Homo sapiens: one gene and its partner. The protein of the gene in region 1 purifies or fractionates together with the protein of each later gene. This does not show direct contact. Each region holds a gene or a part of one and is shown on either strand. Other genes may lie near its edges.

Region 1 (3,821 bases):
ATCATAGGGTGAGGAGCAAACCACACATATTGAAAGGCACAACAAAACTAGCTTGCTTCTTCAAGAAACTGATCAGTGAAGGGAAGGAGTAATATATTAAGGCCAAGAGAGGGTATCAGGATTTTTAAGTTTCTTTGCCTGTACATGAAATAGCCCTGGCCTTTGTCTTCTCCCATTTCTAATTTACTTTGTTTACTTTTCGTTGAACTTCTGACTCTTTTGCTCATCTTTGCCTTTAATCTGTGATTTCTTTCATCTGTTAGTAGGCAGCCCTCTCCTCAACATAGAATTATCAGGTATTACATTTGTATGGACCCGGAAATCATCCAACTTGGTTTGTTAGAATAGTGGGTAAATTGAGCAGGAAGCACATTCCAGGGATGATTTGGAGGCAGAGTTTGGAGGGGACCTCTTCTCTGCATGTAATGTAGTATGAACTTCAGACTGCTTAGGCTTGAATACTGGTCCACTGTTGTTAGCTGGGTAAACTCGGACAAAAGTTATTCAATCTTTCTAAGCCTCAGTTTTATTATCGTTAAAAACAGGGTAATATTAATAGACCCTCCATGGTGTTATCATGAAGATTCAATAGATGACTCATTTAAAGTGCTAGCCACAAGGTCTGGCTTGTATTAAATGCTCAAAGATACTAGCTATAACTATTTATAAAGTGCAGGAGTAGTGTATGGACACGGTGGTAATGTTTTTGACTGCTCAGTGACGTTTTCTTCCCTCTTTCTGATTCTCAGGTTCTAGAATTATGTTATCCCAAACAGTAGCCACTGGCCACATGTGCCTGTTGAGCACTTGAAATGTGGCTAGTCCAAATTGAGAAGTTGTGCTATAAGTGTATAATACACACTGGACTTCAAAGACTTATCTTTAAAAAGAATGTAAAATATTCCATTAAAAAGTTCACATTGATTACATGTTACAATGACATTTTAGATATAACGGTTTAAATAAATTATATTGTTAAAATTAACATTATCAGTTTTTGTTTTGTTTTATTTTGTTTTCTGAGATGGAGTCTCGCTCTGTCGCCCAGGCTGGAGTGTGGTACCTCAATCTCGGCTCACTGCAACCTCCACCTTGCGGGTTCAAGTGATTCTTGTGCCTCTGCCTCCCGAGCGTCTGGGACTACAAGCGTGTGCCACCACATCCGGCTAACTTTTCTATTTTTAGTAGAGATGGGGTTTCACCATGTTGGCCAGGCTGGTTTCAAATTCCTGACCTCAAGTGATCTGCCCACCTCAGCCTCCCAAACTGCTGGGATTACAGGTGTGAGCCACCACGCCTGGCCTGTCATCAGTTTTTAAAGAATTTTTCTTAATGTGGCTATTAGAAAGTTTAAAATTGTCTATAAGGTTTACATTATATTTCTTTTGAGCAGTTTTATAAAGATGAAATTACAGAGCTACTAAATTAAAAAGAAGTAATATATTTCTATATTTTATTTACCTGCATAGCATGAGCCCCTCTTCTTCCTTTATAAGCCAACCAGATTCTGCTGACCTTCACTGGGCAGTTGAAGCCTCGCCATCCACACACACTGATCCTTGTGAGCAACCATCCATCACTAGGGTAATAAAATTATATCTGTGGCCAAACTTTAGCCAGCTTCTGGCATTGCCCAAAAAAACTTAGCTACAGATTAATCCTCAGAAAGCAAACAACCAACAGGGAAGAAACAAACTTCTTATTTTTTAAATTCCTTTGGCAGAGATACTTGATATCAAATTGGAGGTAAAAAGGAGGAAAATTGCATATGGCAAATACCACCAGTAGTCAATCCAGTAGACGTTTTCTCCTTCCTCTTTGCTAATAAAAGTCCCAATTTTGTTTAAGGCTACAAACAAAACAAAATAAGGTATAAGAGGTGGCTATATGACATAGCTTCAGCCAATGAAATATAGACAAAAGTGTCATAGTGAGTCTTTTAGAAAGGCTATCTCGATTTAAAAAAGGACGGGTGGGGACAAACTCAACAGATGCACACATTTTATTTTACTTTTTGCCTTCTGTCTTTTCTATCGGGAATGGGGACACAATAGTTCAAGGTGGAACAACAACCTTGAGACCTGAGGGTAAAGGTCACATACTATGAGTGGGCCAGGAAGCCGGAAGGAGCTGGGCACCTGATGACTTCCTCAGTCAGCTGCTCTACCTCTCCACTTCTTGTTACTTGAGCCAAACAAACCCTACTTGCTTCAGTCACTCTCTCTGGATTTCTGATAAACACAGCTAAACACAACCCCAGCTGAAACCCGCAGTCCAGAAAATGCTAATGTTCACAATCTGGCCCTAAAATCTGCTGTCCCGAGGACATTTTCACTTCCAAGAAAATCTGTCACTATTGGCCTAAAGCAAATAGTTATTTTGGCTCATGCAATGGGAACAAGCATGAATTATTTGGCCTTGGCTTTTTATGATCCAGCATATATAATAGTCATTTTTAAAAGATATATACTATATATCTATACATCTACATAAGTATATAGGTACAAATATATATTTCCAAGAGGGCAGGGGCTTTATCTGTCGTATTCATCATTTTATTTCCAGGCCCTAATAAAGGCCAAATCTCCTTTTCCTTAAGGCTGACTTCTCTTTCCAGTGATCTTCACAACATAATTTGCTACCATTCAGAGGCGGCAACATGGAAAACATCCTAGGCTAAGTTACAGGTGACCTAGAGCTAATCCTGGCTCTACCAAATAAATAGTTCTGAGACATTGAAACATTTCTTCAAATAAAAATTCGTGCAGAAATTCAGTGTACTAAGCAGGTAAGATTAAAGAGAGAAAACCCGCAGCCCCTTCTACTGGGTCACAGGATAGTAAGAAATCCCCAAGAAATTTAATAGCATTAAAGACAAATTTAAAGTAAACCTCTCACTCAGTTATATAGATTTGAAGGAATGTTGTCATGTTCATGTATAAAAAATGTGACTTGGTATAGGGTCAGAAATCAGTACACATAAGGGCTTTGGAAATAACCTGTATTTGGGGACTATATAAGCAAGTGTTTTAACACATGGGCTTTGGATGACCTAGGACCAGTTAACTATTCCATTAACGGGTTTGATAATCCCAAAAAAACACAATCCTGAATGTCATAATACCAAATGTGGAAATCCCAAAAAGATCTAAATCCCCAAAATATAATTCTGGAAAAAATAATTTAAAAGACATTTCTTCACATTTATAAAAGGAGATTTATTTTAGAAACATATAAAAACATGACAGAGCATTTCACAGGCCACTTTACATAATAAAATAGGCAATAGTAACATTTGTATTTTTACAAGCATAAACATACAGGTATACTAACAACAGTCATATGGGTATAATGTTATAAGTGGATGAACCATATTCATAAAGAAATAAGTCAAGATTCAAAATGTATAAATGCATAACACTATGGTAATTTTATGCAACCAGCTTTATAACTGTAGTCATCTGAAACACCATGACGATAACCTAAGTCTTTTGATAAGATTGATCCAAAACTTCAATGAGTCACTACGGCATATGCAATTGCACAAAGAGCTGAGATCTTAAGAAATTTTATCTTTCACAAATGCAGTTGTACAAAAAAGGACATCTCTTCATTTATTGGGGAAGTTTCAACATTTTTACATACACAATGCTTACACACAAAGTCAATGTTGTGATAATGCACTTTTGTGGAGTCAAATTGACAAAATATACATAAAACAAATTAGAACTTTCTGAAAGTCTTTATACAATTTATACTCCAGTACTGCAAATGATGTGAAGATGAAATACACAGCATAGCAAATTGTGAAAAGTAATAAT
Region 2 (3,821 bases), on another chromosome or scaffold:
TGAAGCGCATCAACATGGCACACCTGTGCATCGCGGGGTCGCACGCCGTCAACGGCGTGGCGCGCATCCACTCCGAGATCCTCAAGAAGACCATGTGAGCCCCGCTTTCCAGATCCCGCCCCTCTCTAGGCCCCACCCACTCCACGCCTCTGTCACACAGAAGCCCCGCCCTTCACCGACCACTCTCTGGTCTCTGGGCCCTGGCGCCTTTCACAGGTGGCGTCATTCTTACAAGCACAGCAGCCCCTTCCAGTGCCGCCCTGTCCTGAGATGACCTCCTCTTACACACAGCACCCCCAACCTTCCCCAGGTCTGCATTCCCTGCCCCAGGCCCCTTTCAGCAAGACACCAGGGTAGGGGCCCCAGGGCAGAGGCCTTCATTGTACAGGGGTGAGTGGTGACCCTCGTCCAACCTCATCCTGCAGCTTCAAAGACTTCTATGAGCTGGAGCCTCATAAGTTCCAGAATAAGACCAACGGCATCACCCCTCGGCGCTGGCTGGTTCTGTGTAACCCCGGGCTGGCAGAGGTCATTGCTGAGGTGAGAGGCCACCGTAGGGCCAGTAGAGTCAACATGGGTCCCTGCAGGGATCAGCTGGGTATGGTCGTGTAGGTGGTTCACTGCATCAGGGCTCCCAGCTGAAGGCTGAAATCCCTCCTGCACTGTGTTCCCCAAGCCTCGCATCCACCTGGAGGAGGGACACCATCTTAATTGCATGAGGGTGCTCTGTGTGCTAATGGAGGCCCTGGCTGTGGAGGTGAACACAGCAGAGGGAGTCATCCATGGGTCACATCTGAAGTGAGCCTGGAAGGGGGCAGATATCTGGTAGGGAAGGCGCAAGGTCATGCTGGCGTTAGGAAAAGGCCAGGAAGCCAGGAAGGCCTGCTGGGGTCAGGTGGGGTCAGCCATCAGAGCTCAAGGACGGGAGGGGAGGAAGGTGCATGGATGCCCCGTGCCCCATCTGGGCGGCTGGAGGAGGAGGGGCTGGGAGGGCCCCCAGAGCAGCCTGCTGGGTGAAGGGGGCTTGGCTGACCTGGAAATGGCCCCTTCTGTGTTGGGAGGAGGGAGGACATGGGGATGGGCTTGGCTGAGAGCCGTCTTCCCATAGCGCATCGGGGAGGACTTCATCTCTGACCTGGACCAGCTGCGCAAACTGCTCTCCTTTGTGGATGATGAAGCTTTCATTCGGGATGTGGCCAAAGTGAAGCAGGTGGGGAGAGATGCAATGTGGGACAGCTGTGCTGTGTGGAGAGCGCTGGAGGGGCCAGATGTCTGGGTCAGGCGTGGCAAATAGAGCTCATCTCTCCTGCCAGCCCAGGCCGTTGGTGGAAGTTGCCTGGAGTCTGTGGTGGGAAGGCATCATCTGACCTCACATGAACAGTGCTGACATTGATTAGCAATGTCTGCCCTGGTACAGGAGTGGACAGAAGTAGCCAGTGAGCCTCCTGGTAGCCATCCTCCTGGGGCTGACTGGAGTGTGGACTGTAGGATTTCCTGAGGCTGTGGCCTGTTGGTGAGCCCTTCCCCGTCTCTGCCTCCAGGAAAACAAGTTGAAGTTTGCTGCCTACCTAGAGAGGGAATACAAAGTCCACATCAACCCCAACTCACTCTTCGACATCCAGGTGAAGCGGATTCACGAATATAAACGACAGCTCCTCAACTGCCTCCATGTCATCACCCTGTACAACCGTGAGTGGCAGCCACTCTACCCTGTCTCTCAGTGCTCCCCCGTGTTCCTGCGGCATAGTACATATTGCCCAACCAACATCTCCTTTGGACTTGGGACTACTCTTGGGACATGGAATTATCCCCATTTCACAGATGGGCAAACTGAGGCTAAGAGAGCATAGCAAGTGATTGTTCGAGTCAGGCCTACGGTGTCCCAGCCCAGCCTCTGTCAGGAGCTACTACCCAGAGGGAAAGGTAGGCCCACTGGATCCCTCTCGTTTCTCCACAGGCATCAAGAGGGAGCCCAATAAGTTTTTTGTGCCTCGGACTGTGATGATTGGAGGGAAGGTGAGAAGCCAGGCTCCAGCCCTGGGCTCCCGTCCTTTGATATATCCAGGTTGAGGTCAGCCCAGCTGAGTTGCAGGATAGGGGGTGGGGGGCCAGGCAGTAGAGCTGACCCCAGACTTTGTCCCCTCAGGCTGCACCTGGGTACCACATGGCCAAGATGATCATCAGACTCGTCACAGCCATCGGGGATGTGGTCAACCATGACCCGGCAGTGGGTGACCGCCTCCGTGTCATCTTCCTGGAGAACTACCGAGTCTCACTGGCCGAGAAAGGTGGGTGCTGCCAACAGGGACCCTAGGGAGGCTCTGACTAGTTCAGTCTCAGGAAGAGGTATCAGTCGTCTCTTCCTGGGATACTTGTACTTGAAAGAAGAATCTGGAGAGGGCAATGCTTAAACCATGAGGAGGCCAGGCGCAGTGGCCCATGCCTGTAATCCCAGCACTTTGGGAGGCCAAGGTGGGTGGATCACCTGAGGTCAGGAGTTCGAGACCAGCCTGGCCAACATGGTGAAACCCCGTCTCTACTAAAAATACAAAAATTAGCTGGGCGTGATGGCAGGTGCCTATAATCCCAGCTACTTGGGAGGCTGAAGCAGGAGAATCACTTGAACCTGGGAGGCGGAGGTTGCAGTGAGCCGAGATCACGCCATTGCACTTCAGCCTGGGCAACAAAAGCAAAACTCCGTCTCAAAAAACAAGAGGAAACAAAACAAAGCAAAAACCCCATGAGGATGCCCTCTAATGGTGGAATTTCAGGCAGTACAGGGTGAAATTACCTTCAAATCTGCAACAGAGGTGGGGAAATCCAGGTTGGACCTAGATGGTCAAGAATCAACAAGAGGTAGAGGGCAGTGGGGGTGCGGTGTGAGAGGGAGGCTTGGCTGGTGAAGACTGGGAGTTTGGGGTGGGGCGACTCTGAGTCCAGCTATGCCTGGGGCCAGCCTAATCTGAGAGTCCCCAGCTGGTGTGAGGGTCTTCCCTGAGTTGACTTGTCCCCCTGCTGCCACCCCACAGTGATCCCAGCTGCAGACCTCTCTGAGCAGATCTCCACTGCGGGCACTGAAGCCTCAGGCACCGGCAACATGAAGTTCATGCTCAACGGGGCTCTGACCATTGGCACCATGGACGGGGCCAATGTGGAGATGGCAGAAGAGGCGGGAGAGGAAAACTTCTTCATCTTTGGCATGCGGGTGGAGGATGTGGATAAGCTTGACCAAAGAGGGTATGGGGGTCAGGGTTCACGGGCAAAAGACACCCAGGTGTGGCTGCTGGAGAGTGGTGCTGGGAGCAAGCGGCACGTCTGGAAAGACTGGTCCAGGCCCAGCAAGGTCTTGGTCATGGCCAGCAGGATTCTGGGAAACTTTAGAGGGCGCTTACAGCAAATAAGGTTAATGAAATTGGAAAAGAAAGAAGTAATATAGAACTGAAGGAAAAGGAAGAGAATATTATATCAACCCTAAGAGATAATATTGTTTGGGAAATGGAAGTAAAAAAATCCTTGCTCTACGCCGGGTGCGGTGGCTCACACCTGTAATCCCAGCACTTTGGGAGGCCAAGGCGGGCGGATCACAAGGTCAAGAGATCCAGACCATCCTGGCTAACACGGTGAAACCCCATCTCTACTAAAAATACAAAAAATTAGCCGGGCGTGTTGGCAGGCGCCTGTAGTCCCAGCTGATCGGGAGGCTGAGGCAGGAGAATGGTGTGAATCCAGGAGGCGGAGCTTGCAGTGAGCCGAGATCGCGCCACTGCGCTCCAGCCTGGGTAACAGAGTGAGACTCTGCCTCAAAAAAAAAAAAAAAAATC

What was found.
Region 2: the proteins of FAM81B (region 1) and PYGM purify together in Homo sapiens (affinity purification with mass spectrometry; one large-scale study listed by BioGRID and IntAct). This does not show direct contact.

Annotation. Positions count from the first base shown.
Region 1 is NC_000005.10:95,408,156-95,411,976, forward strand, and holds part of FAM81B (protein FAM81B), read left to right. Parts: intron 1-2,612; exon of another isoform or gene 2,613-2,788; intron 2,789-3,821.
Region 2 is NC_000011.10:64,749,792-64,753,612, reverse strand, and holds part of PYGM (glycogen phosphorylase, muscle form), read left to right. Parts: coding exon 1-94; intron 95-425; coding exon 426-540; intron 541-1,108; coding exon 1,109-1,210; intron 1,211-1,541; coding exon 1,542-1,689; intron 1,690-1,957; coding exon 1,958-2,016; intron 2,017-2,146; coding exon 2,147-2,288; intron 2,289-3,029; coding exon 3,030-3,237; intron 3,238-3,821. UniProt on the Homo sapiens protein: Allosteric enzyme that catalyzes the rate-limiting step in glycogen catabolism, the phosphorolytic cleavage of glycogen to produce glucose-1-phosphate, and plays a central role in maintaining cellular and organismal glucose homeostasis.